Homo sapiens: one gene and its partner. The protein of the gene in region 1 purifies or fractionates together with the protein of each later gene. This does not show direct contact. Each region holds a gene or a part of one and is shown in the gene's direction. Other genes may lie near its edges.

The links. Proteins that work in one complex are often made in the same cells at the same time.
Region 2: the proteins of CIAO3 (region 1) and TULP3 purify together in Homo sapiens (co-immunoprecipitation; one large-scale study listed by IntAct). This does not show direct contact.

The regions. Positions count from the first base shown.
Region 1 is NC_000016.10:734,410-738,061, reverse strand, and holds part of CIAO3 (cytosolic iron-sulfur assembly component 3), read left to right. Parts: intron 1-732; coding exon 733-876; intron 877-1,663; coding exon 1,664-1,796; intron 1,797-3,190; coding exon 3,191-3,325; intron 3,326-3,652.
Region 2 is NC_000012.12:2,935,857-2,938,882, forward strand, and holds part of TULP3 (tubby-related protein 3), read left to right. Parts: intron 1-1,774; coding exon 1,775-1,873; intron 1,874-2,257; coding exon 2,258-2,429; intron 2,430-3,026. UniProt on the Homo sapiens protein: Negative regulator of the Shh signaling transduction pathway: recruited to primary cilia via association with the IFT complex A (IFT-A) and is required for recruitment of G protein-coupled receptor GPR161 to cilia, a promoter of PKA-dependent basal repression machinery in Shh signaling.

The DNA.
Region 1 (3,652 bases):
ACAGGCCTAGCAGAGAGCTGGGCTGCGAGGGGTTCCCACACAGTTCCCACCCAGTCGCCTTACTCCTCTGGCTGTATTCCGGGCCACTGCAGCACCCCTGGCCCTGCTCAAACCATTCCTGCCTTTGCAGGAGAAGTTGGGGGAGCTCGAGCTGGGTGCGTTTTGCATGTAAGAAAAGTTGCTGAGGCATGTCCCGGAGGCCCCCGACTGGAACACCTTGTTCCTGCATCTGTTTGGCGAGTCTGACGGTTGTTTCTGCCCCGCCCACCGGAGGCCAGGCTCCCAGGCTTCCTCCCTCTGCTCTCCTCTTCCTGTGCCTTCGTCCTTTCCTCCTTTGTCCTCAGCTTTCCCGCCTCCTCCTTTCAGAGCCCACCTTCGGCATTTTCCTGCCCTACAGCCCTGTGAGTGTGCACCGGGGCCAGCACCCCGTCCAGGGCCCCATGGGTGAGTGGGGTGGCTGCTGCTTTGCTGAGATACCAGTGGCAAGCCTTAGTCCTGTGATTCGGATGCACTAACCAAGTGGTACCAAGAAGCAGACTTGACGGCATTATGAAACTGTAGAGCGTGCGTGTGCATTTTTGTAATACATACCTAATTTTTAAAAATTCAGCGGCACACAAGCCCAGCCAGCAGCCATGTTGGTTGTCGGTTATGAGCTGGACTCCACTATCCTCTGTCTCCATGTCCTCGTGCAGAGGGGGCCCCTGTGCACCGGGTTCTTCTCCCTTGTAGGACGGCGGGACCCGGAGGCTGGAGAAGGCCAAGGTCTCGCTAAACGACTGCCTGGCGTGCAGCGGCTGCATCACCTCCGCAGAGACCGTGCTTATCACCCAGCAGAGCCACGAGGAGCTGAAGAAGGTTCTAGATGCTAACAAGGTAAGCAGTGGTCGGCCTGGTGACTCTGCTTTAACCTGAAATCCATCCCAGCAGCCGACAACGCGTTTTGCCAAGGGCAGCTCGTGTGGTGCCGACGTCCGTCGTGCGGGTGGCGCCTGCCTTTTTGAGGCTTGGAATCTTGGTGATTTGTCAGTGGGCTCCAGTGGTGAACGTGTCAGGCCCCAAACTTCAGGTTCTAAATATACATCAAAATGACACCCCTACTGGGCGCGGGGGCTCACGCCTGTCATACCAGCACTTTGGGAGGCTGAGCCGGGTGGATCACCTGAGGTCAGGAGTTCGAGACCACCGTGGCCAACATGGTGAAACCCCGTCTCTACTAAAAATACAAGAATTAGCCAGGTGTGGTGGCACATGCCTGTAATCCAAGCTACTAGAGAGGCTGAGGCAGGAGAATCGCTTGAACCCAGGAGACAGAGGTTGCAGTGAGCCGAGATTGCGCCATTACACACCAGCCTGGTGATAGAGTGAGACTCCATCAAAAAAAAACGATACCCTTGGCCAGGCACGGTGGTTCACGCCTGTAATCCCATCTACCCAGGAGGCTGAACCTGGGAGGCGGAGGTTGCATGCAGTGAGCTCCGATCGCACCACTGCACTCCAGCCTGGGCAACAGAGTGAGACTCTGTGTTAAAAAAAAAAAAAAGACTCTTGATGGAGCTGGCCTGCCCTCTCCACAGCTGACAGCATCTCACCGTGCGGCTCTGGCCACCAGGAATCAGCATAAGGCCAGCAGAGTAAGCAGCGTCTTCCCCTTGCTTTGCAGATGGCGGCACCCAGTCAGCAGAGGCTGGTTGTAGTTTCGGTCTCACCACAGTCTAGAGCATCGCTGGCTGCACGGTTTCAGCTGAATCCTACAGATACTGCCAGGAAATTAACCTCATTCTTTAAAAAAATAGGTAGGCTTTGAACCTGGGGTAACACTGCCGCTCCAAATCAAGGGGGCGTCTGAGTAAGCCCAGGCCCCTCGCGCCTCTGAGTCACTGACACGCTACCCAGCCCTGAACTTCAGCGCTACAGAAACTTTATTCCCTCTGTGACCTCAGCCTGAAGTTTTGATTTGACATTTGAGAGCAGGGCCTTCTCACAGAACACGTCTGCATTCTGACTGTGCACTTTCTCTAAGCTGGGGCTGACCAACTCCTTGTACTTTTTAGCTGATAATATTAAGGCACTCTCTCCGGGGCTCTGTTGGGTTCAGCCAAGGTCAGCTTCTGCTGACTTTGGTTATGTGCCTGGAGCTGGGCTTGGGGAGGATCTGGGTGTCTTGAGAGCCCCCAGCTAACTAGGCTCCAGTGCCTGGTGTCTCACTGGGAATGAAGGGGCTGGACCTCATGGTTACTGTGTGCCTTTCACAGGTAACCACCATGTCCAGTCCCTTCATTCCCAGTGAGGCAGGCCTGTGCGCCTTGTAACCAGCAGACTGCCTGTCATCCAGCTGTGTCCCAGGTCCCTCACACTGGAAACCTGGTGACACTGGCAGGTGCCCCATGGCTCCTGTCTGACCCATATCCAGTTGGTGCCTGAGCAGTGCTCTGGCACTGGGAGCCTGACCTGGTGTCCCAGGGAAAACCTGGCCTGGGGCAGCCCATGGTTCTCCAGATGGAAGGTGTGGATTTCGTCCCCACCAGAATAGGAAGCAAGTTCAAAGATTTTTACTTAGAGATGATGATGACGGGCAAGTGGGGCACAGCGAGTCCTCCGACCACGGGTTACGCGAGGGAGGAATGACAAGTCAGGCAGAGAGAGAGGGACCCACACGCGGGTGCCTCTGCTGGGTCCAGGGCACGATCAGGCAGGTTTACTGAGCAGTTCTAATGGCTGGGCTTGGAGCTGGCTGGCGTGTTCCAGGAGTCCTGCTGTGTGTGAGGGGTGGCCACTATGGTAGGTCTGCACAGTCAGGGTCCGAGGGGCCAGTCCAGCAGGCTGCGTCCAGCTGTGCCCTAGGGAGGGTCACCGGGAGCAGCGCACGTGGCAATTCCCTGGACCAGCCACGCTGAAGAGCTGGGAGGGTGGAGGACTGAGCTGCTGGGTGGCTGCCTCTGGGGTGGGAAACCAAGGCCTGGGTTCACAGGGGATGCCGAGGCAACGTGGCTTTAGGAGGTCCCCACAGTGGGGCTGGGGCTTTGGCGCAACGTGGCTTTAGGAGGTCCCCACGGTGGGGCCGGGGCTTTGGCACGGCAAGCAGGTGCGACACACGTGCCCTGGCAGCACCATGGTGGTCCACACGCCGGCGTGTGCTCGTGTGGGCGTCCCGCATGGGGTTAACCAGGCACCCACCTTCACCTTCCAGGGGTGCACTTCGTCTTCGACACCGCCTTCTCAAGGCACTTCAGCCTCCTGGAGAGCCAGCGAGAGTTTGTGCGGCGATTCCGAGGACAGGCCGACTGCAGACAGGCGCTGCCCCTGCTGGCCTCTGCCTGCCCAGGTGTGCTCATGGTGCGGGTGGTGGGAGAGTCAAGTTCAAGTGCAGTTGAAACGTGAGGTGATATGGACACAAATGACAAGGCGGGGGCATGGGGGGTGGAGACGCAAGCAGGTTTTGCGGGACGGGTTGGAAATGTTGGCACAAATGGCCTTTTCTGGAGAAGAGGCTGCCCTCCCGTGGGAGCCACGCGCAGTCACCTCAGGTCCCTAGGCGGTGTCGCCTGCACGCCGAGCTCCGCGTGGTGGTGGGGAGAACAGGAATGAGCACTCTTTAATGTCATCATGATCTCCTGTATGAGCGGGCCCGCCCCCAGAATGTCGTGCTGCT
Region 2 (3,026 bases), on another chromosome or scaffold:
ACTGGGGGCACTGAGGCAAGAGGATCACCTGAGTCTTAGGAGGGTCGAGGCTGCAGTGAGCCGTGATCACACCATGCACTCTAGCCTGGGCGACAGCATGAGACCCTGTTTAAAAAATAATAATAATCGGCCAGGCGTGGTGGCTCACGCCTGTAATCCCAGCACTTTGGGAGGCCGAGGCCGGTGGATCACCTGAAGTCAGGAGGTGGAGACCAGCCTGGCCAACATGGCAAAAACCCGTCTCTACTAAAAATACAAAAAAAATTAGCCAGGCGTGGTGGCAGGCACCTGTAATCCCAGCTACTCGGGAGGCTGAGGCAGGAGAATCGCTTGAACCCAGGAGGCAGAGGTTGCAATGAGCCAAGATTGTGCCACTGCACTCCAGCCTGGGTGACAGAGCAAGACGCCATCTCAAAATAAAATAAGAATAATCTGCTTGGCTTGACAGGCATTTTTAATACCTAGTGCAGGCCTTATTTAACCACAACTAATTTTCACTGTATGTAATATAGTGCTATGCCCTCACTGGGAAATAAATATGTGTTGGTGCTGACAAAGTTGAACAGTTTGTTCACAGTTATCTCAAATCACATTTAAGACTCAAGAGTAAGAGGCCGGGCGTGGTGGCTCACTCCTGTAGTCACAGCACCTTGGGAGGCCAAGATGGGCGGATCACCTGAGGTCGGGAATTCGAGACCAACATGGAGAAACCCCGTCTCGACTAAAAAAAAAAAAAAAATACAAAATTAGCCGGGTGTGGTGGCGCATGCCTATAATCCCAGCTACTCAGGCTGAGGCAGGAAAATTGCTTGAACCCGGGAGGCGGAGGTTGTGGTGAGCTGAGATTGTGCCATTATACTCCAGCCTGGGCAACAAGAGTGAAACTCTGGTCCCAAAAAAAAAATAGTTAAGAGTAAACTCTCAAGCCAAGAGATTCTGTTTTAAATGTAGGTGTTTAAAGAAGGTATAGGCCAGGTGCAGTGGCTCACGCCTGTAATCCCAGCACTTTGGGAGGCTGAGGCAGGCAGATCACGAGGTCAGGAGATCGAGACCATCCTAGCCAACTTGGTGAAACCCCGTCTCTACTAAAAATACAAAAAATAATTAGCCAGGCGTGGTGGCATGCGCCTGTAGTCCCAGGCTGAGGCACAGGAATCGCTTGAACCCAGGAGGTGGAGATTGGAGGTTGCAGTGAGCTGAGATTGTGCCACTGCACTCCAGCCTGGCGACAGAGCGTGACTCTGTCTCAAAAAAAAAAAGAGAAGTATAAAGAGATATAATATTACTTTCCTGTTTTTGATTCTGTTTACAGCAAAGTAATAAAATTATTTTTGGTACACCTGATTTTTTTTTTTTTTTTTTTTTTTTTTTTTTTCTGAGGCAGAGTCTCACTCTTGTCGCCCAGGCTGGAGTGCAACGGCGTGATCTCGGCTCACTGCAGCCTCTGCCTCCTGGGTTCAAGCAATTCTCCTGCCTCAGCCTCCCGAGTAGCTGGGATTACAGGCGCCTGCCACCACGCCTGGCTAATTTTTGTATTTTTAGTAGAGACAGGGTTTCACCATGTTGGCCAGGCTGGTCTCAAACTCCTGACCTCAGGTTATCTGCCCACCTCGGCCTCCCAAAGTGCTGGGATTATAGGCGTGATCCACTGCCCCGGCTGATACAGCTGATATTGTCAGCATCTTACATTCCCAAGAAAGTCTCATGTTATAAAAGAATGTGGTCTCTATTTTTTTCCTGTTTCCAAGTTCTGCTTTGTTTTCCTATCTTCCAGGAAACAAACGTACTTGGATTTAAAGGTCCTAGGAAAATGTCTGTGATCATTCCTGGAATGACACTGAATCATAAGCAGATCCCCTATCAGCCACAAAACGTGAGTAAGAATGTATTTAAATCAGTGAAAGACTCTAAAAGACAGTAGTACAATACACAGAGATTAATACAAAAAAAAAAAAAAAGATTGAGCTTCCAGAGCCCCACACTGGAGATAGCTCCATACACTTCTTTAGGAAAGCTGCCCCTCCAAAACCTCAGGATAAGAGCAGTTGCAGAGTCATTGCCTTGAAACCATTTTTTCTACAAAGAGAAATGCTGGATGATGTAGAATAATTTTAAAAAAAACCTGTCTTCATTGTTGGCTTTCATTCTTCGCTTCTGGTTTACCCTTTCTGAAATGGAGAAAGTATTCTCCTACTCTACCTTCTACCTCGTAGAGTTGGAGTTCTCAGTACAAAGTAATGATTTTCCCTTTGGACAGAACCATGACAGTTTGCTCTCAAGGTGGCAGAACAGAACTATGGAAAATCTGGTTGAGCTGCACAACAAGGCCCCCGTCTGGAACAGTGACACTCAGTCCTATGTCCTCAACTTCCGTGGCCGGGTCACTCAGGCGTCTGTGAAGAACTTCCAGATAGTCCACAAAAATGACCGTAAGCCTCCAGGAGGGGTTGGGTGGGAAGAGGAGGACAGATGCTCTTACAGGATGGGAATGCACATTCCCTGTACATGATAGGAAGTGACAGTCAGCAGATAATCATGGAGGAGAGACAGGATTTCTTTGGAAAGATGAAACTACAGTTTTAGAGAAAACTTGTAAATCACTGTGTTGAGGAGGGGAGAGGAGTGTGAGAGAGATGCTATAGCAAATCAGAGAAGTTGGCTGGGCACCATGGCTCACGTCTGTAATCCCAGCACTTTGGGAGGCCGAGGTGGGCAGATCGCTTGAGACCAGCCTGGGCAACATGGTGTGAAACCCCATCTCTACAAAAAATAGAAAAATTAGCTGGGCGTGGTGGCAGGCACTTGTAGTCCCAGCTACCCGGGAGGCTGAGGTGGGAGCATCACTTGAGCCAGGAGGTCGAGGCTGCAGTGAGCTGAGATTGCATCACTGCTCTCCAGCCTGGGTGACAGCAAGAACCTGTCTCAGAAAAAAATAAAAAATCAGAGAAGTCATAGAGTAGGTTGTTTGGGAAACAAAGGCAAATGACCCCAATAAAGGTTCCTGGCAGCTCTAGCCTGCGGAGTTT